Homo sapiens: one gene and its partners. The protein of the gene in region 3 interacts with the protein of the main gene of each other region in a pairwise test. Each region holds a gene or a part of one and is shown on either strand. Other genes may lie near its edges.

Region 1 (4,041 bases), on a different chromosome or scaffold from region 3:
GTCCTTGGCCATACCAAAATGGAAAAAGCATGTTATCTAGCTGTTTGACTGGGTTAATTTTATGCAGCAACTCCCCAAGAGAGAAATGAAAATAAGTTCTCCATAGTGATGAGACTCCCGGGTGTCAGCCTCTGTTCTCTCTGTAGTCATTTTTCCTAGTGGTTTTTTGTTTTGTTTTGTTTTTAACCTCATCCTTGATGGCCCAGTGACTGAGGCAAAGGAAACCAGTGAACTTCGAAGAAATCTGGGGTCACCAGTCTTCTGTGGTCCTGGGAGCTTGGCATGGCTTTAAAGCTCTACTCTGCTACCCTCCTTCTCCTTCTCAGTCTGTAGGTACATCCTCTAAACCCTCACCCAGCTCAGGCTTATATGTTTTGCTCTAATTTATACTGCTTCCACCTCCAGCTCTGGTTGTACCAAGGAGTTGGCTTCCTTTAGGATTGCTGGGAGAATCTAAGATTCTGCTCTTCAGGGGTCTGGTTAAGTCTACACAGCCCTGAGAACCTAGTGTGTCTGAGCTGCTTCTCCCTGACTATTGCTCATCGGCTGATTCTAGCAGGATAGCACCAGGCCCCTCTGCTTTGGATGAATACAGCCTATAGTCTTCTCCTCACTTTCAACATTCAGGCCCCAGTCTTCTCCTCACTTCCCACATTCAGGCCCCAGGCCCTAACCATTTCTCTTTAACATCCTTTAATCTCATCTCCTCTTTCCCAGCTCCACTGATCTAGCTCTGGCTTCTACTCTTTACCTGAATCAGTTTAAAGAGCCCCACCGAAAGCTCACCCTACCATAAGTATAGACTCTATACTAGCCAGAATATTATTCCTAAACTACAGCTCTGATCATTTTAGTACACAACCCATTTCTCATGGCCTACATAATTATGGCCTACATAATTAAGTGTAAGAGATTCTAAGGCCCTTTTAAAAAAGCATGACTCCAGGCTGGGCACGGTGATGGCTCACGCCTGTAATCCCAGAACTTTGGGAGGCCAAGGTGGGCAGATCACCTGAGGTCAGGAGTTTGAGACCAGCCTGGCCAACATGGCAAAACCCCATCTCTACTAAAAATCTAAAAATTAGCCAGGCGTGGTGGCGCATGCCTATAATCCCAGCTACTCAGGAGGCAGAAACCGGAGAATCGCTTGAACCCCGGAGGCAGCAGTTGCAAGGAGCCAAGATCACACCACTGCACTCCAGCCTGGGGGACACAGCAAGACTCCGTCTCAAAAAACAAAAAGAAAAACAAAAGCATGACCCCAATCTACTTTTCAGCTTCATCTGACACTGTTCCTATAAACCCTCTAGCCCCACAAAGCTATTTGTCTTTGCTAAGCCAATAACTCTCCTCTTCCATACGAGCTGTTTCCTCCCTCCTAAAAGCCCAACGCTCACTGCTTGCTAAGTGCTGACTTCACATCCCTGCTTGTGAAGCATTCCTTCCTGAACTTCCCATCAGATGAATCCTTAATACCTCTCTGCAACTAGAGAATACAGGTCAGGTCTGTTGTCATAGGTATGTCACCATTTTGCAATTATGCTGGCATGGCCAATGAACTCTTTGAGAGCAGGGGCTTTACCATTCATTGTGATGCCCCACCACTACCTAGCACTTGGCCTAGGCTTCAGTAAACACTGAATGAATGTTCGTTAAAAGGACATGAAATCCAGGTGCCTTTTTTTCTGTCGGAGGCTCTGCACAATTCTATGTCCATTTCAGCAGGCTCTCTGGGCTCAAATCACCTTTTCTCCTTAGAGCATCCACATTCAAGGACCCTAACACATACCGCCCGAGTATGAACAGTCAACTGTCACCTTCCCCAAGAAGGCCCTATTTTCATCTCAAATATTAAAAACGCTACAGAACCTCAATGCACGGCTTAGCATAGAAATGTTGTTTTTGGTACCTGTTCATAAATTTGGGGAAGGGGACAATGTCACACTTTCTTCAAGAAAATTCAGTATACATTCCCAACACCACAGAATTCCTACTTTTGATGATGGTGGTGGTGGCATAAAGTACCAATAGCCTCGTCTTTTGAAAGGATCTGCCATGCTGCTTATGTAATCATTCTGATAAGAAACTTCACGTCGAAGTTCAGCAATTTCTTCTAAAACATTTTCAAAGCCTCCTTTGTTGTCTGTAAAGAAAAGTCATTCTATGAAATTGATATGAAATCACTTACTTCCTTTCTCAAAATATAAAAGAGATTCTAAGAGAGCCAATTAATTTTATCAGTTCCTCAAAGCTGACTTTCAGTCTGCCCTTTGGTAAGTCAAAAAAAGGCAAACTGATTTGTAAACATTATTTATTTTGAAATTACAAATACAAAACTCTTTTTTTCTTTTTTTGAGACAGAGTCTCACTCCGTCATCCAGTCTGGAGTGCAGCGGCCCAATCTCGGCTCACTGCCAACCTCTGCCTCCCAGGTTCAAGTGATTCTCCTGCCTCACCTTCCCGAGTAGCTGGGTTTACAGGTGCCCACCTCCATGCCCAGCTAATTTTTGTATTTTTTAGTAGAGACAGGGTGTCACCATGTTGGCCAGGCTGGTCTCGAACTCCTGACCTCAAGCGATCCACCCACCTCAGCCTCCCAAAGTGCTATGATCACAGGCATGAGCCACTGTGCTCGCCCACAAATACGAAACTCTTATCTTGGCAACCAAGTCCCCCAGTAACACACTTACAGAAAATACTCTTAAAATTATCTGATTTATTTTATTTTACTTATTAAGCTAATTACCACAGCTCTCTGAATCAAGCATGGACTTGATTTGTAACAGTTAAAGGTAAAAAACAAATGAGATGATTTAATTTTATGACTACAAAACCACTGCCAAAAATCAAAGCCCAATACTTTACCACTTCCAGTGAGGTCTAGTACATTCTGCAGCCTTGCAATCTCTGTCCTTTGTCGTTCCATTGTCTCATTCAGTTTCTCAATTTCTAGGACCTGTGAGTTTGCTCCAGTACCTACACCTGTTTTCTCCATCTCAAGTCGAAACTATTTAAAAAAATTACACATACAAAGTTGCCAATGAATTCATTCTTTCCCAAACACATTTATCCTTTCAACTTGATTATGATTCTATATTTATTTACACTTTCCCAGTGAGGAAACTGCATTACTTGGAAACTGCACCAAGCCTGGCACACAGTAGAGGATAAAGTACTTATTAACTATTGATTGCACTTCAGAATTCTTTGAGACATCACCTACAGTAATTTTGTCTTTTAGGAACTGATAAGAATCTGAGAAAGAGGAGGTCTCTGGGTACCAACACTGACCTGCTCCCCCTTCTGCCTGAGGAGATTCTGCAGGAGTTCGATCTCAGCTTCTGCTCGGGTGAGATCTCTGGCTGCTTGTGCTGCCTTTCTGCTGAACCTCTCTGCTTCCTGCAACTCCTACTGGGACAGAAGTATGAGAAAGGCACCACTGCTATCACAGGTTGTCTTCTTCATTTCTTCCTCTTGGATTGATTCTTCTGCTTTCATCACATTGCCTACCAGGCTGTCCATGAAAAGGGACATCCAAGCCCCACCTTCTCCTGTGTTGTTCCCATTGTTGGGCAGCCTGCCCAGCTCCCAACCCCAAGGTGCGGCATCAGAAAGAACAAAGGCTAATTTTTTTACTTTTTTACTTTTACTACCGTCTTCCATGATTATGTCTCTCTGGGCTCTCATCATTAGATTTTTGTCTCCTATGATCTGCTATCTTAATCTCATTAGCATTTGCATCCTATAAAGCACAGTAACAGACATTAGCTCAGTAAGGAGTCATACTATGAAGTAACATTTTCACATGACTGCACGAGATGAAAAATTTGAGATTCAGAGGGATTATATAACAATCCTTCAGGAACCCTTGTCCAGGTAGATATTGACAGCTACCTCCCTAAGCATCCTTACACTTAAAGGTAGGGATAGCATGTTTATTTGATGATTCCTTTCAGGGCTCAGTAGAACGCAGTATCCATGGCAGCACAAAATAAATTATTGGGGGTTGTGATGGGGGGAATATAATCTTTAGGTCTTAAG
Region 2 (4,568 bases), on a different chromosome or scaffold from region 3:
TGAGCCCAGGAGTTCGAGACCAGCCTGGGCAACACAGCGAAACACCAACTCTGCAAAAAGTATACAAATTAGCCAGGCATGGTGTCACACACCGGTGGTCCCAGCTGCTTAGGAGACTGAGGTAGGAGGATTGCTTGAGTCCAGGAGGTCGAGGCTGCAGTGAGCCACGATCACACCACTGTACTCCAACCTGGGTGACAGAGTGAGACCCTGTCTCAAAAAAAAAAAAAAAAAAAAAAACCCCAACAAATCTCGGCTAGGCATGGTGCCTCATGTCTGTAATCCCAGCACTTTAGAAGGCTGATGTGGGAGGATCGCTTCAGCCCAGGAGTTCAAGACCAGCCTGAGCAACATAGCCAGACCCCACCTCTACAAAAATATATATATATTTTTAAGTAGCCCCAGTGTGGTGGCACGTGCCTGTGGTCCCAGCTACTCAGGAAGATCACTTTAGCTCAGGAAGTCAAAGCTGCAGCGAGTCGTGATCACGCCACTGCACTCCAGCCTGTGCAACAGAGTGAGACCCTGTCTCTTAAAAAAGAAAAAAAAAGAAAAAAAGCCAGGCACGGTGGCTCACCCCTGTAATCCCAGCACTTTGGGAGGCCGAGGGGGGCGGATCACCTGAGGTCAGGAGTTCAAGACCAGCCTGACCAACATGGAGAAATCCCATCTCTACTAAAAATACAAAATTAGCCGGGCGTGGTGATGCATGCCTGTAATCCCAGCTACTCGGGAGGCTGAGGCAGGAGAATTGCTTGAACCTGGGAGGCGGAGGTCGCAGTGAGCCGAGATCACGCCATTGCACTCCAGCCTGGGCAACAATAGCGAAACTCCGTCTCAAAAAAAAAAAAAAAGAAAAAGAAAAAAAATTAGCCAGGCATGGTGGCGGGCGCCTGTAGTCCCAGCTACTCGGGAGACTGAGGCAGGAGAATGGAGTGAACCCGGGAGCTTGCAGTGAGCCGAGATCACACCACTGCACTCCAGCCTGGGCAACAGAGCGAGACTCCGTCTCAAAGAAAAAGAAAAAAAGTAGGGGAGGGGGGATTAACTTCACATGAGCGGGCTTTCCGCAGATTTTAAATGTTGTCCATATATCACTTTAACGAAAAGTAAAATGCAAACAGAAAAACAACCAACTTTCTTTCCAGCATGTGTACAAGCCAGCCCTCCCCCACCACCCAGCCAAGAAGCAGAACCACCCGATCATTCACAGGGCAGCAGAGTGCTGATCCCCAGGCAGCTGAAGGCGCTAGCCGTGGCATCCCCAAGAGGTGCCCCACCCCGCACACGGCCTGTCCCCTCACCTCGCCCTGGCGCCTGGTCTTGGGGGAAGGACTGAAAAAGTTGTGCAGGACAGAGAGCTCTGTACTGAAGAGAGCGCTCTCCTTCTCCAGGATGTACTGCTTCAGGAGTGGGGAAACCTCGTCCCCGAAGAGGGCCTGGTTGTCTTGCCAGATCTGCCGCTTCACCTCCACGGCGCAGGCTCGATACAGCTCCTTGTCAGCCATAACCAGCTTCAGTTTTTTCTCCGGAACCTACATGACACCACAGGCTGCCTGTGAGTGGCACCTGTGTCCCTGGGTCTCCTTCAAGACAAGCCAAGAGGCCTCAGCCCCGCAGAGACCACCTCGAGCTAAGCTCCACCCCACAGGGCACCTATGACTGGTTCCCCGGCCCCAGCATGTCAGACAGACATGCTAAATACCAACAGCTCTTTCCCAGGAGGGGCCCCACACCCTAACTCCAGTGCTAAGGTTCGGTCTCCACGCGGCTCATGTGGGAGAAGTCAGCACAGAGCTCACCATGGACAGCACTTGGGCAGGCAGCACAGGAAGCTCCCGGAGCTAGGCGGCCACCGGAACTTCCACTAACCAAGGGCATGAGAGTGGGCGGACGGTCCACGCCATCAGGGTTAGGGTTAGGGCCCTACCTTGGGCAGGTGCTTCATGACGCACATCACCACGGGCTGCAGGGACGGCATCTTCACCAGAGAAAAGCTCTTCTCCAGAAGGTCTTCCAGCTTCTTGTACCTGGAACAACTCACAGGATTGATGGTGCAGCGATGCGCCAAATCGCAGCAGCTACCTGCCTGTCCCTACACAGATAACAGCTACCAGGACAAGCCTCCACGCCCAGGACACATGGGTCAAGGGGTCACTCAGACACAGGCCCAGGCCACCTCTGGGAGCAAGGATGTGGAGCCAAAAGGACAATAAATGCCCCTGAGTCGATCCAAGGCTGAGAGGCCGGCTGCACATCTCACCTGCCCACCCCTCCCGCTGACCCACCTTTCCTCAGCCTTCCCCTCCGAAGCGATGGCTGACACTCGCTCCAGCAGCTTGTCCCGCAGCTCATCGAATACCGACTGGTGGAACTCCAGCCGCGGCGTCCCGTGCAGGTCCAAGAAGGGGAGGGCTGACTGAAGAGATGGCAGCAGCACACCATTCTCTGTCTGAGGAAGCCAAGAGAAACCTCAAACGCAGCCCAGTGCGCCCGGGCACCCCGAGGTCCTGAGAGCACAGGGAGGCACGCACCCAGGTGTTCCCAGCCGTGCTGGCGGTAACCGCAGCCACCGAAAGCCACCCAGCCGTCCAGCAAAGGGGTGCTGGCTCCGGACTCCACCCCCAGAACAGGACTCAGCCACCAGCAGAAAGCCGGAAAACTTCCGGCGCCTCCGCCAGGCCCGACTCCCGAGCAGGCGGCCCGGCCCTCCAACTGGGCTCCCCCCGCCCCGGGGGCCGCCCCACCTGGAACTGCTCGATGGCCTTGAGCGGCTCCGTGCAGTTGGTCAGGGTCTCCTTCAGGTCCTCGCCGTTGGCCACGCCCAGGTCCTGCAGCCCCGCGAACATGGCCGAGGCCCCGGCCACCGCCCGGCTAGGCGCCCCATCCCCAGCCCGTTCCCCCGGCGCCGCCGCAGACACCCCAGAAGCCCGCTCCGCCGGGCCTCGGGGACCGCCCGAGCCCCGCTCCCCGGCGCCCTCCAGCTCGGCCAGGTCCCGCCCGCCGCGCGACTCCGCGCGCGTCCCGCAGCCGCCCACTTCCGCCCCGCACCGCCCAGGTCCGCCCGCCAACCGGCCCCCGGGAAACGCCGCCGGGGCCGCGCGCAGGTTCCTGGGAGCAGCGCCCTCACCCGGCGCGAGAGACCCCGCCCAGCCAGCCCAGCGCGCATGCGCCCACCCGGTCCCGCCCGCGCCCGGGCTTTCTGGCAGAAGAGGGCGGGTGAGGGCGTGGGGGGCGGACTCAGGGTCCGTCTGCTCCGGGAACGGACGTCGTCGCAGCCGAGTGAATTTCGTGTACATAAGCGTGGAAAACGCTCTTGCAGATCTCGCGGCAGCCACGCGCAGCGGGGACGTTTTGCCGGGGGTTGAGCTCCCCGCCCCTCTGCCCCGCAGGGGCCGGACACAGGCGCAGACTCCCTCCTGAGCGTGGGTTCCTCCGCGTGAAACGGGCACGAAGCCCACCCCGGCGCTGTCGCCAAAACTGAGATCTGAGCGCCTTCAGGGGGCCGGGGCCTGGCGGAGACCGGGCCCGCAGCGGGAGCGCGAGCGACGGCCGCCCTCCCAGGCACCGGGAGGCTGTGGCGCCCACCGAGCTCCGCGGAGCCGTGAAGGAGAGTCCAGGTTCCACAGTGTCCCTTCTTATCCCAGGCGGGTGGGCTCCCCGGGCCTCCCCGCCTCTCCAGCCCGCCGCCCTCCCGCAGGCTGTGCCGCGCCAAGCCCCCTACACACACCCTCTCTCTTTTCGGTCTCCGCTGCTGAAATTTTCTCTAGAAATTTCTTTCCCGCTGCCCAGCAAACTCTTGCTCTTCCTTGAAGGCTTCTTCCTCCACCACCTCCTCCAGGAAGCCCTCCCTCCTCAGCCCAGCTGGAGGAGATCGCTCCATCTTTCCTGCCGCTCCCACTCCTAGCTTTGGGTCTCACCAGGGGTGCCTGGTGGTGCAGCCGTGAGCAGAGCTCCTGTTCCCACAAGCCGGGCCGAGCTCCCAAGGCCATGGCTACCACAGCTCTCTTGCCGCTGGCCAAGTTGGTCAGCCCTAGGGCGAGGGTTCCAGTGCCTTGATCCAACCCCCAGCTGGTTCGGTGGCAGAGGAGGACAAGGGTCACAGCACACACACAATCCTGAGCCTGGGATTCCTCTCTGAGAAAGGGGGTGGTGCTGAGGCCACAGAAGCAGCTGCCCAGAGCCTTTTTGAAGGGGTTGAGCTCTGGGCCTGGTCTGGGTCCTGGGTCTGGGGAGGACCTGGGGAGGTGCGGGTGACGGCACCGCAGGTAAGGCTCCTGCAAGGTGGCAGCCTTGGGGCCCGACCCTGGGTAGGAGGGCAGGCCAGTGATGACAAGGGAGGCCCCAGCCAGGCGAAGTTGCAGGCAGGGGCAGTGCAGGGTCCCAGCAGGTGAAGGCCCCGGGAGTGGAGTCTGCAGGGCCCTGGGCCAGAGTGTTCAGGGCACAGGTGACTAAGCCCAGCCAGGTCTTCAGCTCAAGGCCTAGGGGAAGTGGGGCTGGGCCCTGGTGAGCAGATCCCTGGGCCCTTCCTGAGGTCTGGCCAGGCCGACCCCACCTGGAGGTGGCGG
Region 3 (4,041 bases):
GCTGTAGACAATGACTGTGACAAAAGAGTAGCCATCAAGAAAATTGTCCTTACTGATCCCCAGAGTGTCAAACATGCTCTACGTGAAATCAAAATTATTAGAAGACTTGACCATGATAACATTGTGAAAGTGTTTGAGATTCTTGGTCCCAGTGGAAGCCAATTAACAGACGATGTGGGCTCTCTTACGGAACTGAACAGTGTTTACATTGTTCAGGAGTACATGGAGACAGACTTGGCTAATGTGCTGGAGCAGGGCCCTTTACTGGAAGAGCATGCCAGGCTTTTCATGTATCAGCTGCTACGGGGGCTCAAGTATATTCACTCTGCAAATGTACTGCACAGAGATCTCAAACCAGCTAATCTTTTCATTAATACGGAAGACTTGGTGCTGAAGATAGGTGACTTTGGTCTTGCACGGATCATGGATCCTCATTATTCCCATAAGGTATGTATAGAAAGCCAGCTGAGACAGATCTTTAAACTGATACACCTAATCAGGAATAGGTACTTATATTTTCTTTGTATATTGTGGCAGAATTTTTAATCTTATTAAACTTTACATAGTGCCTTTTTTCTGAAACAAGTCTCTCTGTTTGAAATGAAGGTGGAGTGGGATAATTAAATACAAATTTCTAAAAATACATGGTTATTATAATGAAATTTTAAAGTGTATGGTTATTTATTATAAATGAAATTCTCCCTTAGTTATTTAAAAGTGGAATATACTCTTCTTTCTTTGGGACAGAATTGTGGTAAGAGGGGATGCTATTTCAACTTTAGGTCTTTTGTTTTTGAGACAGAGTCTCACTCTGTCACAAAGGGTAGAGTGCTGTGGCGCCATCTCGGCTCACTGCAACCTTCATCCCCTGGATTCAAGCGATTCTTGTACCTCAGCCTCCCAAGTAGCTGGGATTACAGGTGCGTGCCATCATGCCCAGCTAATTTTTTTGTATTTTTAGTAGACAGGGTTTCACCGTGTTGGCCAGGCTGGTCTTGAACTCCTAGCCTCCAGTGATCTGCCTGCGTCAGCCTCCCAAAATGCTAGGATTACAGGTGTGAGCCCCCATGCCCAGCCTTTTTTTTTTTTTTTTTAAGTTTTTAGTGACAAGATCTTGCTGTGTTGCTCAGGCTGGTGTCAAACTTCTGGGCTCAAGTGATCCTCTGGCCTCAGCCTCCTGAATAGCTGAGGCTAAAGGTGCATGCCAGCACACCCAAGCTTATGTCTTCTTTTGTCTCTTTGAGCCTGTACTATTCAGTTCTGCTTTGTTTAAACTAAATTTAGCTTGAAATCTAAATTCACATAAACAATTGGTAATAAGTATAGCCAAAAAGATCTCACAGCAACTTCGTCTTAGATAGCAAATTGCCTTCATACAAGAATTTAATATTTTTCAAGCTGAACCTTGGTCTTTTAGTTTGGAAATGAAATCTTATGTGGGACCCTGATGTTTAAATTAGAGAGGTGGAGCTGCTTTGGTTGTAAAGAACCCCTGGGAGCCCTGCTTTGTTAGCTTTCCACAGTACATGCCTAAGACAAATCTTCATACATGTTGTTTCACGTTAAGATTATTTTTATTTTTATTTATTTATTTTTTTGAGACTGAGTTGTGCTCTTGTCACCAAGGCTGGAGTGCAATAGTGTGATCTCAGCTCATTGCAACCTCCGCCTCCTGGGTTCAAGCAGTTCTCCTGCCTCAGCCTCCCAAGTAGCTGGGATTACAGGCGCCCGCCACCACGCCCAGCCCACATTAAGGTATTTTTACTTGGGCCAGGTACAGTGGCTCACACCTGTAATCTCAGCACTTTGGGAGGCTGAGGCAGGCGGATCACCTGAGGTCAGGAGTTTGAGACCAGCCTGACAACATGGTGAAACCCTGTCTCTCCTAAAAATACAAAATTAGCTGTGCCTGGTGGTGCATGTCTGTAATTCCAGCTACTCGGGAGGCTGAAGCAGGAGAATCCAGGAGGTGGAGGTTGCAAAGAGCTGAGATTGCGCCAATGCACTCCAGCCTGGGCAACAGGAGCAAAACTCCATTTCCAAACAAAAAAGATATTTTGTAGAAAATGAGTTCTAGGCTGGAAGCGCGGTGGCCCCTGCCTGTAATCTCAGCACTTTAGGAGGCCGGGGCAGGAGGATCACTTGAGGCCAGGAGTTTGAGACCAACCTGCGCAGTGGCTCCTGCCTGTAATCTCAGCACTTTAGGAGGCCGGGGCAGGAGGATCACTTGAGGCCAGGAGTTTGAGACCAACCTGGGCAACACAGACAACTTTTTTTTCCTAGAGAAAAAGAAAAAGAGATGAGTATTACACTGACGACGTCCACAGTGAAATATTGTGGGTAGAGCACTGTATCCACAGTGAAGTATTGTGGATAGAGCACTGAACTAATAAGACTTATACTATATAAAATTGACTCCATTTCTACATCCAACTAGCTATATGACTTGAAGCAGATCTCACTCTCTCAGTCATCACACCTATAAAATGGAGTTAATATCTACCATCACAATCTCTCAGGGTAGTTTTGAGGATGAAATAAGGCAATATATGTGTAAGGTTTTGTAAGGTGCTTTGTAATTGTAAAGTAGTTGAATAGGTGATGAATAGGATTTATAGTAGAGGTCATTAAGGAGGTAGACATTGGTTTATAAGTAGCACCTCTGGTGCTCTTCCCTACTGTTCTGACTTGAAGCATACTTGCTCTTTGATTATCTCAAGACTGAGTGTAAACCAGCTCGTCTTCTGAAAAATGCTTTGAATGTGTGGCCTAGAGTTATATAATTTTTTTTTTTTTTTTTTTTTTTTTAAAGACAGGGTCTTGCTCTTTGCTCACTGCAACCTCTGTCTCCTGCGCTTAAGTGATCCTCCCACCTCAGCCTCCCAAGTAACTGGGACTACAGGCGTGTGCCACCATGCCAGGCTAATTCTTGTATTTTTAGTAGAGGCAGAGTTTTACCATGTTGCCCAGGCTGGTCTCAAATTCCTGACCTCAAGTGATCCACCTACCTCGGCCTCCCAAAGTGCTGGGGTTAAAGATTAGGATTTTTTTTTTTTTTTTTTTGAGATGGAGTTTAGCTCTTGTTGCCCAGGGCGGAGTGCAGTGGCACAATCTCGGCTCACCGCAACCTCTACCTCCCGGGTTCGAGCGATTCTCCTGGCTCAGCCTCCCAAGTAGCTGGGTTTACAGGCATGCACCACCACACCTGGCTAATTTTGTATTTTTAGTAGAGATGGGGTTTCTCCGGTTGGTCAGACTGGTCTCGAACTCCCGACCTTGGGTGATCCGCCCACCTTGGTTTCCCAAAATGCTGGGATTACAGGCATGAGCCACCACGCCTGGCAAATTAAGGATTCTTTAATCAAGTTGTAAGTACTGTTCTTCAGCTAAAGTAAAAAAAGTATGTTTTTTGTTTCTTTTATAGGGTCATCTTTCTGAAGGATTGGTTACTAAATGGTACAGATCTCCACGTCTTTTACTTTCTCCTAATAATTATACTAAAGCCATTGACATGTGGGCTGCAGGCTGCATCTTTGCTGAAATGCTGACTGGTAAAACCCTTTTTGCAGGTTAGTATTTTGTGGGGGGAAAAATTTTCCCAAAGAGAAGTAATTTTGCATTTTATCTCTGAAGCAAGATTCATATAAGATTTAAAATAATTTGTTATGATCTGTAATACTAAAATGAACAGATAAATTGGCGTTTTTAATAAAAAAATTGAGAAAACTTATTCACATATTCACTAAATTGGTCACTTCATAAATTATCAGAACTCCTGTTTAAATATAATTTCATATTTTGTGGACCCATAATACTTGTTGGTAATTTGTGTTGATACTTAAGTTGCATAATTCTGTCAGTATCATCACTTCCTGGTGAAAATTTTAAGCCATTGTTGAAAATCCAACAAATTTTTCTTGGTCCCCTCCCCCTATAAACAACCAAACAAGTAATTTTTTGTTAAGTTTGGTGCTATTTAGAAGTCTAAAGAAGTGTGTGAGAGAGGACTTTGTCAAGATGAGATGAGTAATCCATGAAAAA
Region 4 (4,470 bases), on a different chromosome or scaffold from region 3:
GAGCTGCACCAACAGATGGAGCAGCAAGGTGGGTGGCGTGTGAGGACACACAATCGGGGCATCCCCGTGGGGGCTGGGCTTGGGAGCTGCGAATGAAAGGACAGTGTCTCCAGTGCACAGGCAGGTGTAGGGGCCCTTGTGCCTGAGGATTAATGCGGGGGGTGGGGCCACTTAGAAATGGGAAGGCTCCCAGGGAAACCAGGTGTAGGTGGGGGCTGGACTCCACTGGGAAGGGTCGTGGTTGTGGCCAGGAGGGGTAGGAGGCCCTGCGCCGAAGGTACAAAGATAAGTGAGTGAGAGAGAGAGAAAGTAGAAGAGAGGTTTAGGGGGTGAGCCACAGCATTAAGTGTGTTAGCAAACATGTGCTGGTGTGCACACACACGTGCACACACACAAAGGCCTGGGGCAAGGTGTTCAGCACCCAGACAGACATGCACATGGTACTTCAGGATGAGCTTGCTGGGGGGCAGGGACTGGTGTGTCTGGGAGGGTGTGCCCACATGCTGTGTAGACCTGGGAGGGATGGGGTGTCTGGAAGGAGAGGGTGTGTTGCAAGGACTGAAGGTGTATGAGGAAGAAGCACAGGTGTGCCTGCGATGGCTGTGAGCCTGGGGAGGTGAGTGGTTGGATGGGGGCTGTGTGCATCCAAGGGTGAGGGCTGGCAGTGCTGCGCTGGGGGCTCTGGGGGCACGTAGTGGCCGTGTGTGTGTTGTGTACATGGCAGCAAGGCACCTGGGGGAGGTCTCAAGGAGGCAGGCATGAGGTGGCAGCCTCTCTGGGTGGGGAGTGTGGGCTGTATGCTGCCAGGAGGTGTATTGTGTACGCAGGTGTGTGTGCCTGTGTAGGTGTGTGTCTGGGTGGGTGCCACCGAGCGCGTGTATCATTGTCAGAGTGTCTGTGTCACTGGCAAGGGTAAGCGGGAGGGAGCAGCTGGACCTGGGTAGTGACTGAGCCTGGAAGGAAAGAGGGGTCCCCACCAGCCACTCGCGCACCCAGCCCCTCCTCTCAGAACTCCAATGTCATATGGATTCAGCCCAGGCCTGGGCTGGAAAGAACTGCCCGGCAGCCGTGGCTGGTTGGTCCATCCCGCCCACCCCTGTGGATCTGAGGATAGGATGGGTCTGAGAACACTTCCTCTAGCATGAATGAAGAGCCCCCAGCCAGACCCTTCTCCCCTGTCTCCCAAAAGATCCAGCCACACCTCAGATGCCAGCATCCCTAGAGCCATCCCTGGAAGCAAGAGGAGGTAGGGACTGAGGGGCTGAAGCACCCACAAAACAGAAGGCCTCACAGTTAGCAGACTGCAGACCTCCCTCCCCTTCTCCTTCCCTCTCCCTTCTTTCTTTCTCCTTCTCTGGCAGAAGACAGAGAAAGTAAGACCCTAATGTCCACCCTCCTCCAAAAGGAACACCCAGACACTGGGAAGGTAGACAACAGGGAAGGATAAGAATGAATGGAAGAGGAGAGACGCCCACCCGCCAACACATGAAAAAACAGGGCTATCTGGAAGCCCCCAGGGCAGCCAAGGGACTGGGGACCCAAGACCCACCCCCTAAAAATCTATTTCATTATTCCAGGTGGACAGCCTCCTCCTTCACCTCCAGACACCAAGAAAAAGCCCCTCCCAGCCCTTGCTAGCTCAATGAGGCATCGAATGCCCTCTCCCAAGATTCAGGAGGGGGGTGAGAGTAAAGGAGACAACAGCACCCCAAAGCCAATTGTGCCCCAAAAGCCCATCAAGGGTTCAAGGGCTCATACCCCAACCCAAAGACCCCAGGGAAGATTGCTGCTTCAGCTGGGGGAGGAGGCTGGGACATGAGAAATGGTCCCTTCCTCTTTAGGGGTGGGGGAGCAAGCCAAGGGCCCTGCAGCTTCCTCTCCCCCTGCAGCACTCTCTGACCAGAACCCTGTCACCGCCCCCAGCGCATTCCCACCCCAGCAAAGCCCCCTCCTACTGATTTCCCAGTCTCCCTGTCTCATCACCCCCAGCCTTCCCCCGCAAGCTTCCGCTCCTCTCCCTCAGACCCCATCTTTCCCAGCTCTCCACCAGCACAGACCCATCTCTGCCTGGAGCACCTTGGCACATTCCCCTCTGCTCTCTCCCAATAACCTCTTCTCCCCTTGGCTCCCATCCCCCAGGAAAGCCTGGTCCTCAGTGGGTCCCCTCAGGACGAAGCCCTTGGCCTGGCCCCTTTCCTTCCCTCTCCACTTCTCTCTCTTCTCCAGCCCCCTCTCCTCTCCTCCCACGAAGCCCAGTTTCTCGCTGGTTAGACCCTCCAGAACACAACAGCTCCTCTGGCCCGGCGCTGCTTCAAGCCTCTGGGGCTAGCACAGACTGGGGACCCCCCTTTAAGAACCCCCTCTAAGTCCTCTGGATGCCCCTCCTCTCTCCATCCCTTCCCCCAAAGACCCTTCCTCCCACCCCTCCCCATTCTCCTCAGCTCTCAGGGCCAGTGCCCCTTCCACAGGAGCCTCCGACCCCCAAGCCCCCAGCGGCTTTGCCTCCTCGCTGTCACCGGGCCAGCCCTCTCAGCGCGGCGCCCCCGCCCCCCAATTCATCCGTCCTGCCTCCCTCGCCCCCTCCGATCCGCTCCCCTCCCCCGATCGGCTCCCGCCCCCCGCCCGTCTCCGCCGCAGCGCCCCCCCCCCCCCATTTTACCTGGTTCTCGGGGCGCCAGAAGCTGGAGGGTGGGTAGCAGAGCTACAGGGCCGCCCCGTCTCCGACGGGTGGCAGAGCCAGGGCTAGCGGTGTCTGCCGCCTCGCGCCTCTCTCCCTCCCCGCCGCGTCCCCGCCCGCCCGCCCGCCCCGCCGCGGTGCCTCTCCGAGGAGGATGCTCCGCGAGTCAGGGCGGCTGCTCCCGCCGCCGCATCCCTGCAACACCGACTGACGGCAGCATCAGCACCAGTGCCCGCCCCCGAGACGCGCGCATTGGACCACGCTGCGCTGACGGGCGAGCAGCGCAGCCAATGCAAGGGCTCAGAAGCCGCCAGTCCAGCGGCTCCACAGGCCCACTCCCTCCCTCGCGCGGGACCCAGGCGTCCCGGCCCCAGCACCCGCGCTCCTCCCAGCCTCTCGAGGTTCTCGGGCGCCCGGGCCCCCAACCAGGCGGGCCCCAAACCCGGCCTCAGTGTCTTTTCCGGGAACCCAAGCACTCTCGCCCCTCGCCCCTCGCCCCTTAGTTCGGGGCCTTGGGTCCCGCACCCTCCCCCCACGGCCAGCAGGTCTTCGCGCAGCGCGGGGCTGGGACAAGCCGAAGGAGAGGCTGTGGACCCCGACTTGGGACGCCGCGAGAGCAGGGCTGATGCGGGGCCTGGGCCGCAGCGCCCTCTGCTGGCTACCCCCAGGGGCGGGCCCGGGCTTCGAGGAGCCTAGAGAAGGGGGACTCGGTGGGTCCATGGCTGCTGGGGGCTTTTTCCAGTCGGTAGCCTGGCCCCCACCTCCCACCGTCCGGAGGGCCCCTGGCTTGGAGCCCCCAGAACTGAAGAGGAAGGGGCTTTGCTGGGATAAAGACGGAGGCGGTGGGGGAAGGAAAGGCAGAGATGGGGGCGGGGTAGACCTAGGAACTTGGGGGTTTCCCAGTCCTGCCTCATGGGAATCCCAGAGTTTGAGGCCAAACTCTCAGTTCTGCCTGGAACCCTGGACCGAGGTACGAGTAGGTGTGGGGGCAGGGTTGCGCCTGCACATGCCTGGTGACTGAGGGCACCTGGCAGCAGCCCCCTTCTCTGTTCTCCTCCTCCCATCCATGAGTTTCAGTTAGAGTGGTGCTGGGGGGCGCAGGTCTCTCCTGTAAGGGTACATGCATCACTGTGCATGTGTATGAGTGTGGGGGACTGGGGGACACCCTTCACTCACTCCGCCAATAAAAGTGTACACACACTGGCACTTAGTGTGTATACCCCGAGGTTGGTCACTGGGCTGCTGAATGAGACAGTGAGAGACAGAGTGTGTGTGTGTATGTGTGCCAGACCATTCTGCCAGCTCACTCCAGGACCCTGGTTTCTGTTGCAGGGTCTGTGATCTGCACAGCTGGTGGTAGTTGGCACTTCCTTAGCCAGAGGCAACATGCAAGAACACTTACATTCAACCACCAATGCATGGACATTGGGGCACTCACAGCCATGCACACATATCTGTGAACACTGGGCATTCCCAGAGACACATAAGAACACCTGCAGAAATGCCCCACCATGGTAACACACCCACAGGAAGCATATACTGCCCAAGAACACACACACTTGTGCACACAGGTACCTACACCAGGCAATTAATGCATGCCCAGAACAGCTGCACCCAGGGGACCTGCCCACAGTCATCCTGGACCCCTGCCCAGGCACTTCAAAGAGAGTGGTCAATTACTGAGTGGCTTAATGCGGACACCAACCCCCCGGGTGGGAAACTCCTTCCCCAGCCTGTGAAGGGGTAAGAGGGGGACCCAGGCTGCAAGGAGTTTTTCCTAGGAGTCGAGAAGG
Region 5 (4,041 bases), on a different chromosome or scaffold from region 3:
GCTGGGACTACAGGCGTGTGCCACCACACAGGCTAATTTTTGTATTTTTAGTAGAGACAGGGTTTCACCATGTTAGCCAGGCTGGTCTCAAACCCCTGACCTGGTGATCCGCCTGCCTTGGCCTCCCAAAGTGCTGGGATTACAGGTGTGAGCCACCACACCTGGCCAAGAAAGACAATCTCATCCTTTCAGTTGTTTGGTGAAAAACCGTGGAGTCAGCCGGGCACGGTTTCTCACACTTTGTAATCCCAGCACTTTGGGAGGCCGAGGCAGGCAGATCATGAGGTCAGGCGATCGAGACCATGCTGGCTAACACGGTGAAACCCCATCTCTATGAAAAATACAAAAAATTAGCCGGGTGTGGTGGCGCATGCCTGTAATTCCAGCTACCCCGGGAGGCTGAGGCAGGAGAATCCCTTGAACCCGGGAGGTGGAGGTTGAGATCGCGCCACCGCACTCCACCCTGGGTGACACAGCGAGACTCTGGGAGGGAAGGAAGGGAGGGAGGGAGGGAGGGAAGGGAGGAAGGAAGGAAGGGGAAGGAGGGGAAGGAGGGAAAGGAAGGAAAGGAAGAAAGGAAGGAAAGAAAGAAAGAAAGGAAGGGAAGAACGAAAGAAAGACAAGCTCTTTTTTTTTTTTTTTTGAGACAGTCTTGCTCTGTTGCCTAGGCTGGAGTGCAACAGCGCAATCTCAGCTCCACCTCCCAGGTTCAAGCGATTCTCATGCCTCAGCCTCCCGAGTAGCTGGGACTACAGGCGTGTGCCACCACATTGGCTAATTTTTGTATTTTTAGTAGAGACAGGGTTTCACCATGTTGGCCAGGCTAGTCTCAAACCCCTGACCTTGTGATCTGCCCACCTTGGCCTCCCAAAGTGCTGGGATTACAGGTGTGAGCCACCTCACCTGGCCAAGAAAGACAATCTCATTCTTTCAGTTGTTTGGTGAAAAACCTTGGAGTCGGCCGGGCACGGTTTCTCACACCTGTAATCCCAGCACTTTGGGAGGCCGACGCAGGCAGATCATGAGGTCAGGAGATCGAGACCTTGCTGGCTAACACGGTGAAACCCTGTCTCTACTAAAAATACAAAAAATTAGCCGGGCATGGTGGCACGTGCCTGTAGTTCCAGCTACTCAGGAAGCTGAGACAGGAGAATTGCTTGAACTGGAGAGGCAGAGGTTGCAGTGAGCCAAAATCGTGTCGTTGTACTCCAGGCTGGGTGGCAGAGCGAGACTCTGTCTCATAGGAAAAAAAAAAAACAAAAAACCTTGGAGTCATCCCTTACGCCTCTCTTTTTTTCCCCACACCTCATATACCAAACCATCAGCAAATCCTGTTAGCTCTATTTCAGAATACAGGCACATCCAGCAAAATGTCTCTAGTTAACATTTTCACCATAGAATGCCTTTTTGTTTTTAATATCCAGCTTGGTTGTCAGCCTTCAAGATGGTCTCTAGTAATCCTCAACTCCTGCTATGCGACTTTGCATACTCCCTTTCCACACTGAGCAGGGCTGACCTATGCAACCAATAGGACACTGTGTAAATAACAATGTGTGGCTGGGGACAGTGGCTTATGCCTGTAATCCCAGCACTTTGGGAGGCCAGGATGGGCTGATCACTTGAGGTCAGGAGTTTGAGACCAGCCTGGACAACATGGTGAAACCCCATCTCTACTAAAAATACAAAAATTACCTAGGTGTCATGACGGGCGCCTGTAATCCCAACTGCTTGGGAGGCTAAGGTATGAGAATCACTTGAACCCGGGGGGAGGCAGAGGTTGCAGTGAGCTGAGATCGCACTGCTGCACTCCAGCTTGGGTGCCAGAGCAGACCCTGTCTCAAAAAAAAATGAAAAAACAATGTGTGACTTCTGAGGCTAGGTCATAAAAGACATTGTGGCTTCTGCCTTGTTCTCTTGGATCATTCCCTCTAGGGAAAGCCATCAGCCATGTTGTAAGGACATGTAAGCAGCTCTATGGAGAGAACTTCATGGCAAGGGACTGAGACCTCCTGTGAACAGCCAGTACCAACTTGCTAGTCATGAGTGAGTCATCTCGGAAGCAGATCATCTAGGCCCAGTCAAACCTTCAGATGACTTCAACGTAATAAGAGACCCTGAGCTTGAGCCATCCAGCTAAGCCACTCCCAAATTCTTGACCCACAAGAACTGTATGAGATAATAAATATTGTTGTTTTAAGCTGCTAAGTTTTGGCATAATTTGTTACACAGCAATAGTTAACTAATATACCAAACTTATGTTGATTCAGCTTATGTTTATTTATTTATCTATTGAGACAGGGTCTCACTCTGCCACCCAGGCCGAAGTGCAATAGTGTGATCATGGTTCACTGTAGCCTCAACCTCCCAGGCCCAAGTGATCCTCCCACCTCAGCCTCCCAAGTAGCTGGGACCACAGGCATGTGCCACCATGCCTGGCTAATTTTTTAATTTTTTGTAGAGACAGGGTCTCCTTATGTTGCCCAAGCTGCTCTCAAACTCCTTGACTCAAGTGATCTGCCTGCCTCAGCCTCTCAAAGTACTGGGATTACAGGTGTGAGCCACCACACCTGGCCCAGTGTATGTTTATACAGAAAATATGTATATTTACATCATTAAAATCTTATCTATATTTTTAACAAAGTAATGTGCATTTAAAGCTTCAAATTATATTCCAAATAGAACTGATAGAAAATTACTGAGTGCCAGCCTGGCTGACATAGTGAGACCCTGTCTCTACAAAATAAAAAATCAGCTGGGTGGGGCAGCTCATGCCTGTAGTCCCACCTACTTAAGAGGCTGAGGTGGGAGGATCGCTTGAGTACAGGAGGTCAAGGCTGCAGTGAGCCGTGATTGTGCCACTGTACTCCAGCCTGGGCAACACAGCAAGACCCTGTCTCAATCAATCAATCAATGGAAAATATATTAAGTTGAAGATTTCACACAGAATGTCCAATTTTCATGAAACAGATTACTGATGTTAAGTGGGAAATGCCTATATCCAGAATCTGACCACTTGTCACCTCCACAGCTACCACTGTGGTCAAAGCCACCAGTGTCTCTCTAGGAGATTGTTGCAGTAATCTCCTATCTAGTCTCCCCTCTTTTGCCCTTGTCCCTGCATAATCTGTGCTTCTTACAGCAAAGTGATTCTCTTGATACAGAACTCAGGTCATGCAGTTCCTCTGCTCACAACTCTGTAATGGTCCCACCTTACTCAGTGAGAAAGCCAATTTCCTCACAGTGGTGCACAAGGCCCCACTCAACATAACTCCTTCCCCATTACTTCTTTGACCTCATCTCTTATCCTTTTTCCCCACTAACTGTGATTCAGCCCAGCCATAGTGGCCTCCTGGCTTTCCTTAAGCCTCCTGGGCACTCTTTAACTTTAGAACTTTGCCGTTGCTGAACTTTCCCCCTGCACCCCACTTCACCTACTCCATTGCCTGGGCTAGTTATCTATGTGACTCAGTCCCTCACTCCCTTCAGGTTGCTGCTCAAGCATTACCTTATCAATATCCCTGCTCCTTACCCCTCTTGCCCTGCTTTATTTCTCTGGATTGAAGGTTACCCTGTGACCTACCACAAATTTCAGTATGGCTTTAAGCCACATGCGGGAGGAGTTCTATTTTTTTTGAGACAGAATCTCACTCTGTCACCCAGGCTGGAGTGCAGTGATGCAATCACAGCTAACTGTAGCCCTGGCCTCTCAGGCTCAAATGATCCTTCCACCTCAGCCTCCTGAGTACCTGAGACTACAGGCACGTGCCACCACGCCTGGCTAATTTTTTAATTTTTATTTTTGTAGAGATGGGGTCTCAGTATGTTGTCCAGGCTGTTCTCAAACTCCTGAACTGAAGATCCTCCCTCCTAGGGCTCCCAAAGTGCTGGGATTACAGGTGTGAGCCACCACATCCAGCCAACAGACATCTTTGGGAGGGAGATTTTTTTTTTTTTTGAGATGGAGTCTCATTCTGTCGCCCAGGCTGGAGTGCAGTGGCATGATCTTGGCTCACTGCAACCTCTGCCTCCTGGGTTCAAGCA
Region 6 (3,595 bases), on a different chromosome or scaffold from region 3:
TTCAGCCCTTGTAATTCATAAGGCAATTCATACTGGAGAAAAACCTTACAAGTGTAATGAATGTGACAAAGCTTTTAATCAGCAATCAAACCTTGCACGTCATCGTAGAATTCATACTGGAGAGAAACCTTACAAATGTGAAGAATGTGACAAAGTTTTCAGTCGGAAATCAACCCTTGAGTCACATAAGAGAATTCATACTGGAGAGAAACCATACAAATGTAAGGTTTGTGACACAGCTTTCACATGGAATTCTCAGCTGGCAAGACATAAAAGAATTCACACTGGAGAGAAAACTTACAAGTGTAATGAGTGTGGCAAGACCTTCAGTCACAAGTCATCCCTTGTATGCCATCATAGACTTCATGGTGGAGAGAAATCTTACAAATGTAAGGTCTGTGACAAGGCTTTTGCGTGGAATTCACACCTGGTAAGACATACTAGAATTCATAGTGGAGGAAAACCTTACAAGTGTAATGAATGTGGGAAGACCTTTGGTCAAAATTCAGATCTTCTAATTCATAAGTCAATTCATACTGGAGAGCAACCTTACAAATATGAAGAATGTGAAAAGGTTTTCAGTTGTGGATCAACCCTTGAGACACATAAGATAATTCACACCGGAGAGAAACCATACAAATGTAAGGTTTGTGACAAGGCTTTTGCGTGTCATTCCTATCTGGCAAAACATACTAGAATTCATAGTGGAGAGAAACCTTACAAGTGTAATGAGTGCAGCAAGACCTTCCGTCTGAGGTCATACCTTGCAAGCCATCGCAGAGTTCATAGTGGTGAGAAACCTTACAAGTGTAATGAGTGCAGCAAGACCTTCAGTCAGAGGTCATACCTTCATTGCCATCGTAGACTTCATAGTGGTGAGAAACCTTACAAGTGTAATGAGTGTGGCAAGACCTTCAGTCACAAGCCATCCCTTGTTCACCATCGTAGACTTCATACTGGAGAGAAATCTTACAAATGTACGGTTTGTGACAAGGCTTTCGTGCGTAATTCATACCTGGCAAGACATACCAGAATTCACACTGCAGAGAAACCTTACAAGTGTAATGAATGTGGGAAGGCTTTTAATCAACAATCACAACTTTCACTTCATCATAGAATTCATGCTGGGGAGAAACTTTACAAATGTGAAACATGTGACAAAGTTTTCAGTCGCAAATCACACCTTAAAAGACATAGGAGAATTCATCCTGGAAAGAAACCATACAAATGTAAGGTTTGTGACAAGACTTTTGGGAGTGATTCACACCTGAAACAACATACTGGACTTCACACTGGAGAGAAACCTTACAAGTGTAATGAGTGTGGCAAAGCCTTTAGCAAGCAGTCAACACTTATTCACCATCAGGCAGTTCATGGTGTAGGGAAACTTGACTAATGTAATGATTGTCACAAAGTCTTCAGTAACGCTACAACCATTGCAAATCATTGGAGAATCTATAATGAATAAAGATCTAACAAGTGTAATAAATGTGGCAAATTTTTCAGACATCATTCATACATTGCAGTTCATTGACACACTCATACTGGAGAGAAACCTTACAAATGTCATGACTGTGGCAAGGTCTTCAGTCAAGCTTCATCCTATGCAAAACATAGGAGAATTCATACAGGAGAGAAACCTCACATGTGTGATGATTGTGGCAAAGCCTTTACTTCATGTTCACACCTCATTAGACATCAGAGAATCCCTACTGGACAGAAATCTTACAAATGTCAGAAGTGTGGCAAGGTCTTGAGTCCGAGGTCACTCCTTGCAGAACATCAGAAAATTCATTTTTGAGATAACTGTTCCCAATGCAGTGAGTATAGCAAACCATCAAGCATTAATTGACACTAGAGTCAGTCCAGCATTGACTTGAGTTTGTGTTGACTTAACATTGAGTTCAACCCTTAATTGACATTCAAGTGTTTATGTTAAGAGGATTGGGCCAGGTGTGGTTTCTCACACCTGTAATTCCAGCACGGTTGGAGGCCAAGGCACATAGGTCACTTGAGGTCAGAAGTTTGAAACCAGCATGGCCAACAGATGTCAGCCACTTTTCCCAGCCTGTTTTTTGATTCTTATTTTCTATTTTTCTTTTTTGAGATAGTACTTTTTAAAGAGATAGTACTTTTTTGATATAGTACTTTATAAAAGGGAGATCAGGCCAGGCACGGAGGCTCATGTAAGTAATCCCAGCACTTTGGGAGGCCGAGACGGGCCCATGACAAGGTCAGGAGATCGAGACCGTCCTGGCTAACACGGTGAAACCCCATCTCTACTAAAAATATAAAATATTAGCCAGGCGTGGTGGCAGGTGCCTGTAGTCCTAGCTGCTTGGGAGGCTGAGGCAGGAGAATGGTGTGAATCCTGGAGACGGAGCTTGCAGGGAGCCAACATCGTGCCACTGCACTCCGGCCTGGGCGACAGTGAGAATCTGTCTCAAAAAAAAAAAAAAAAAAAGGATATCAAAGCTGGATGGTGGCTCATCCCTGCAATCACAACACTTTGGTAGACTGATGTGAGTGGATCACCTAAGGTCAGAAGTTCAAGAGCACCCTGGCTAACATGGTGAAACCCCATCTCTACTAAAAATACAAAAGTTAGCCGGGGGGTGGTGGTGTGCACCTTTAGTTCCAGCTACTTGAGAGGCTGAGGCACAAGAGTCGCTTAAACCTGGGAGGTAGAGGTTGCCGTGAGGCAAAATCGTGCCACTGCCCTCAGCCTGGGCAGTAGAGTCAGTCTCCATCTCAAAGAAACCAGCAAACAAAAAATATTAAAAAAAAACATTAAAAATGCTTTTGTTCTCATTGTTCAATAGACTTCCTTTTTTTTCCTTTCTGATTCCTCTTCATTTCTCTCTTTTTTTTTTTTTTGCAGTTTGAGTTTGAGATAAATCTTAGTTTTAAAAATTGTATTTCTTTCATAGTATATAATCACATCTGAAAGATGCCTTTGCAGCATCGTATAGTCAGCTCACATCATTCATTTCTGTACTTGTATATTCTCCTGTTCTTTTCCAGTTGACCCCAGAATTCATTAGATTAAAAAAAATAGTTGCTGTTTGAAATTAGTTGCATCCAGTTCAGATCGAAGTCTGCATGCTTTCTGGTCTTTGTTATTTATTGGAAGCGTTTCATACCCAATACTTAAGTTTGATTGTTTCAGTGTGTACTTGGTATAGATGTCAGTGACCTTTTAACTAAACATCAAAATGTAGTTTAACCAGTTAGTCTGTTTTTCAGTTTTCTTTCCTTATGTCATTTGTTAAAATCTTGAGCTGGGAGCTATTTATTGCGTGTTTCCCTCAAGGCCCTCTGGTCCATTCTGGAAAAATGTTGAAACATGGGCTGGATTGGCATGGAACTCTCCTCCAAAAGCACCCATGTATTCTTTTTCTTTTTTTTTCCTGAAATGGAGTCTTGCTCTGTCGCCTTGGATGGAGGGCAGTGGTGTGATCTCAGCTTACTGCAACCTCTGCCTCCCGGGATCAAGTGATTCTCCTGCCTCAGTCTCCTGAGTAGCTAGAATTACAGGCACCCACCAACATGCCTGGCTAATTTTTGTATTTTTAGTAGAGACAGGGTTTCACCA
Region 7 (4,041 bases), on a different chromosome or scaffold from region 3:
AGAATGGCGTGAACCCGTAAGGCGGAGCTTGCAGTGAGCCGAGATCACGCCACTGCACTCCAGCCTGGGCGACAGAGAGAGACTCCAAAAAAAAAACAAAGAGAAGATGCCAGTGAGGACTAGTGGCCAGTTGACTCACTAATTAGTCTAGCCCTTCAATTAGGCTAACGTTGGAGGAGTGATTTCTTATGTACACAGTGATACATGTATTCAGTGGTCTTCACAGGTAGGTTTGGAGGGTGGGAAGAAGGCAGCCCAGAGCTGTGCCATCTTTTCTTCATCATAGTCCCCAGATACCACCAACCTCAGCCTCTTGAATGGTTAAGAAGGGGGCTGGGGTGGAGAATTGGGGGAGGGTTGAGGGTGGGGGTGAAGGCAGAATGATGAGGGCTAGGAGATGGCCTGAACCCAGCGGAGAGAAAGGAGGGGATGGGAACAGGAAAAGAAGACAGGGGGCCTTCTCACCCTTTGCTTGAATTCAGACTTCTCCTCCAGGGTCATGGTGTCAGCCTTAGCAATGACAGGGATGATGTTCACAACCTTGCTGAGGTGTTTCATGAACTCAAGATCCAGAGGTCGCAAGCTGGGGCACAGAAAAGGCAGAATCATCAGAGCCACCTTGCCCTCCCCAACTCAGCCACCACCACCACTCCAGGACACCCACAGGAGAAGAGGACTGGGCTGGGCATCTGGCTGAGGCCAAGAGGCTGCTACCTCTCGTCTCCGACACAGCCCCACTGCCTTGCCGTCTGTAGAGCAGCCTCAACACCTGCCTTTTTCTTTTTCAGTCCCCTTGCAGATTCTGCCTCTCTTTAAGCCCCCCTCAAACCACCACTTCAGGACATCTTTTCTGACTCAGGGATTTCTTTCTCCTGGGAGCATCTGTGGACTACTGTCTCTACTCATATGTCCTTGTGCGTGTGTGTCTTTTTTCCTTTTTTGTCTGTCTCAAAAACAAAAAACAAACAACAACAACCAAAAAAAAACAACACTGTGTGTGTCTTTTTTTTTTTTTTTTTTTTTGAGACAGGGTCTCACTTTGTCACCCAGGCTGGAGTGCAGTGATATGGTCATTGGCTCACTGCAGCCTTGACCTCCAGGGCTCAAGCAATCCTCCCACCTCAGCCTCCAGAGGAGCTGGGACCACAGTTGCGCACTACCATGTCTGGCTAATTTTTAAATTTTGTGTAGAGACAATGTCTTGCCATGTTGCCCACGCTGGTCTTGAACTCCTGGACTCAAGCAATCTTCCTGCCTCGGCTTCCCAAAGTGCTGGGATTATAGGCGAGAGCCACCGTGCCTAGTGTGTACATCTTGTTCTGCCTATCAGACTACTTCTTGACAGGTCTCCTCCTAGCCCCCAGAGTTAGTCCTGCAGGGCCAAACTGGAGGCCTTGCCCTTCCCACAATCTGACAGTCTATGCCCCCATCCTACCTCAGGCTCTGAGACCCCAACTTGGCTCTATTTTGCAATCTCAGGGACTCACTAAGTCAGTCTGTCTGATGGTTCATTCTGACCAGGGGGTCGAAGCCTAGGGAGGGATAAAACCAGCCTTCTGTTGAGTTCCTGGGTCTAGCCCAGGGGTCTTGTTTCATCTCTCTTCTCCCCCTACCATCACTGCCTGGTTCCTAGAAAATTTGGGGCTTACCTTGCTTGTGCCATCCTCTGAAGAGCTTAACTCTGGCCCAGCAGCTGGGCTTAGTAATGTTATGGGACCCCCCTCCCCCGGTCTCTGCAGGAAGGTTTCTGGCCTGCCCCCTAGGATCTCCATCCTCTGCCTGTTCCCAGCACTTCCTTCATGGGGCCCACCTGTCACTCACAATCAGAGTTCCCAACATGCTTGTGTGTGTCTTATTCTGCCTATCAGATAGTACTTCATGACAATGGTTGGCCTTCATCTCTGAACACACAATGCCTCACTCCAGGCTGGTACCTTCTAAATGCCTACAACTGGGTCCCTACCCTCCAAACACCAGCCCCAATCCAGGAGCCCTGCACTGCCCTATTTCACCCTTCTTGCTGCTCCCTCCGACTCCAATTATTTTCCAAAGCAGGTATTTGGTGAATAAATGAAGTGCCCTCTGCTCACATTCACCAAGTCCTCTTTGCTGATACAGTTGTGCCATGCTGCTGGGACACCAGTGGGCAGATATTGGTGGCTGATGTTGGACAGCTTTAACCTCCTAGCAAGAAAGTCAAACTTCCTCGTGGAAAGTCTAGGGAATCCCAAGGTCATGGGCCATGACTATGTACCAACCCATCTGGCTGGAAGGGCTAGGACTCAGCTAGGGAGGCCTAGCTGAGTCAACGTATGGATCATCCAATCCAGATGGGCACAGATGATACAAACCAGACCAGGCCTGACAATAGGGGTAGGGTTGGTACATACGAGTGTCCTGTGGGAGAGATGAAGTAAAGGCAGCAGTGGACACGAGTGTCAGGGATGCGTTTCTTCCTGGCGATGTTGACCTCCTCCTTCAGGAACTTCTCGTACTGCTCATTGATGTACTTCTCAATGGGCTCCCAGCTGATGGGGAGGGAAAGTAGATAGATGCATCAGAAGAACAAGACCTAGGGCTCAGCTTAGGCATGATCTGGTAGCAATCTCCTTACATTCATGTCATTCCCTGGTTGGTGGGCCTAGGATACCTGCTGCCAGATTCCCCCTCAGCCCCCGCACCGATGGCTTTCCTGGATGGTTAGTTAGCAGGGGTGGAGCTCCCCAGGGGCCCTGGCCTGGGCTGTCGGGAACTACAGAGCATGGAGGGTGCAGATGGTTCTCAACGTGAATGAATCTGCACCATAGTAAGTATCTTCCCAGCAGAGTCTTTAGGGCAAAGATCTCAGAGGCAGACAGATACCAGTTTTCATTGTTGATTTGGTCTCCAAAGCCTGGGGTGTCGATGACGGTCAGCTTCATTTTGACACCGCCTTCCTCTATCACTGGGGGTGAAAAGAAAATGTACCAGAGAGGTCAGTCCTACAGCTGACCCCAGGTACCTGGCAGCCTACTAGCCAGGGAGACCCAGGCCTTGTCTTCAGGATCAGTTATTGGAAAAGTCAAATTTAGGGTCTTTTCCATCTCGATATCATGGCTTATGCTGTTCCCTGTACCTGGAATCTGGAATACCCTCTCTACTCATTTCTTTTTCTTCTTCTTTTATTTTTTTTAAGAGACAGGGTCTCACTCTGTCACCCAGGCTAGAGTGCAGTGGTGCAATCACAGCTCACTGTAGCCTCGAACTCCCCAGCTCAAGTGATGCTGTCGCCTCAGCCTCCCCAATAGCTAGGACTACAGATATGCACCATCATACCCAGCTAATTTTTTTTTTAAGAGACAGGGTTTCGGGCCGGGCGTGGTTGCTCACGCCTGTTATCCCAGCAGTTTGGGAGGCCAAGGCAGGCGGATCACGAGCTCAGGAGATCAAGACCATCCTGGCTAACACAGTGAAACCCCATCTCTACTAAAAATACAAAAAAAATTAGCCGGGCGTGGTGGCGGGTGCCTGTAGTCCCAGCTACTCAGGAGGCTGAGGCAGGAGAATGGCGTGAACCCGGGAGGTGGAGCTTGCAGTGAGCCGAGATCGCACCACTGCACTCCAGCCTGGGCGACAAAGCAAGACTCCGTCTCAAAAAAACAAACAACAAACAAACAAAAAAAGAGACAGGGTTTCACTGTGTTGACCAAGATGGTCTCGAACTCCATGACTCAAGCGATCCTCCCACTTTGGCCTCCCGAAGTGCTGGGATTACAGGCATGAGCCACCGTACCTGCCCACTCCTTACCTCTTTCTACCTGTCTAAATCCTGTACTTTATCATCCACCTCAAATCTCACCTCCTTCCATTCGAGCTCCCTGCTCTCTCTTCCCTGAACCTGCAGTCTAAGGAGTTTGCTTCAGAGTGAAGTGCTCACGTCTGTTTTGTCTTAAGGTTGCCTTTTATTGATCTTATTCTTCAATAAGCCCCATTCTTTCCCCTTTCCAGCAGAGGCACTCACTGAACAAAGCCCATAGGGGTCCCTGCCTGGTCCTCACCATG

What was found.
Region 1: the proteins of MAPK6 (region 3) and CNTRL interact in a two-hybrid assay, tested with the Homo sapiens proteins (one large-scale study listed by BioGRID and IntAct).
Region 2: the proteins of MAPK6 (region 3) and NELFB interact in a two-hybrid assay, tested with the Homo sapiens proteins (one large-scale study listed by BioGRID and IntAct).
Region 4: the proteins of MAPK6 (region 3) and NRXN2 interact in a two-hybrid assay, tested with the Homo sapiens proteins (one large-scale study listed by BioGRID and IntAct).
Region 5: the proteins of MAPK6 (region 3) and MON1A interact in a two-hybrid assay, tested with the Homo sapiens proteins (one large-scale study listed by BioGRID and IntAct).
Region 6: the proteins of MAPK6 (region 3) and ZNF600 interact in a two-hybrid assay, tested with the Homo sapiens proteins (one large-scale study listed by BioGRID and IntAct).
Region 7: the proteins of MAPK6 (region 3) and SEPTIN3 interact in a two-hybrid assay, tested with the Homo sapiens proteins (one large-scale study listed by BioGRID and IntAct).

Annotation. Positions count from the first base shown.
Region 1 is NC_000009.12:121,144,210-121,148,250, reverse strand, and holds part of CNTRL (centriolin), read right to left. Parts: intron 3,409-4,041; coding exon 3,292-3,408; intron 3,008-3,291; coding exon 2,866-3,007; exon of another isoform or gene 2,861-2,865; intron 2,144-2,860; coding exon 1,995-2,143; intron 1-1,994. UniProt on the Homo sapiens protein: Involved in cell cycle progression and cytokinesis. During the late steps of cytokinesis, anchors exocyst and SNARE complexes at the midbody, thereby allowing secretory vesicle-mediated abscission.
Region 2 is NC_000009.12:137,253,791-137,258,358, reverse strand, and holds the start of NELFB (negative elongation factor B), read right to left. Parts: upstream 3,033-4,568; 5' UTR 2,994-3,032; coding exon 2,748-2,993; intron 2,453-2,747; coding exon 2,289-2,452; intron 2,031-2,288; coding exon 1,931-2,030; intron 1,536-1,930; coding exon 1,305-1,535; intron 1-1,304. UniProt on the Homo sapiens protein: Essential component of the NELF complex, a complex that negatively regulates the elongation of transcription by RNA polymerase II.
Region 3 is NC_000015.10:52,046,569-52,050,609, forward strand, and holds part of MAPK6 (mitogen-activated protein kinase 6), read left to right. Parts: coding exon 1-447; intron 448-3,424; coding exon 3,425-3,569; coding exon of another isoform or gene 3,570-3,574; intron 3,575-4,041. UniProt on the Homo sapiens protein: Atypical MAPK protein. Phosphorylates microtubule-associated protein 2 (MAP2) and MAPKAPK5.
Region 4 is NC_000011.10:64,720,312-64,724,781, forward strand, and holds the start of NRXN2 (neurexin-2-beta isoform alpha-1 precursor), read right to left. Parts: upstream 2,887-4,470; 5' UTR 2,660-2,886; intron 1-2,659. UniProt on the Homo sapiens protein: Neuronal cell surface protein that may be involved in cell recognition and cell adhesion.
Region 5 is NC_000003.12:49,922,842-49,926,882, forward strand, and holds part of MON1A (vacuolar fusion protein MON1 homolog A), read right to left. Parts: intron 1-4,041. UniProt on the Homo sapiens protein: Plays an important role in membrane trafficking through the secretory apparatus. Not involved in endocytic trafficking to lysosomes.
Region 6 is NC_000019.10:52,763,388-52,766,982, reverse strand, and holds the end of ZNF600 (zinc finger protein 600), read left to right. Parts: coding exon 1-1,396; 3' UTR 1,397-2,799; downstream 2,800-3,595. UniProt on the Homo sapiens protein: May be involved in transcriptional regulation.
Region 7 is NC_000022.11:41,986,109-41,990,149, reverse strand, and holds part of SEPTIN3 (neuronal-specific septin-3), read right to left. Parts: coding exon 4,038-4,041; intron 2,945-4,037; coding exon 2,863-2,944; intron 2,529-2,862; coding exon 2,391-2,528; intron 584-2,390; coding exon 466-583; intron 1-465. UniProt on the Homo sapiens protein: Filament-forming cytoskeletal GTPase. May play a role in cytokinesis.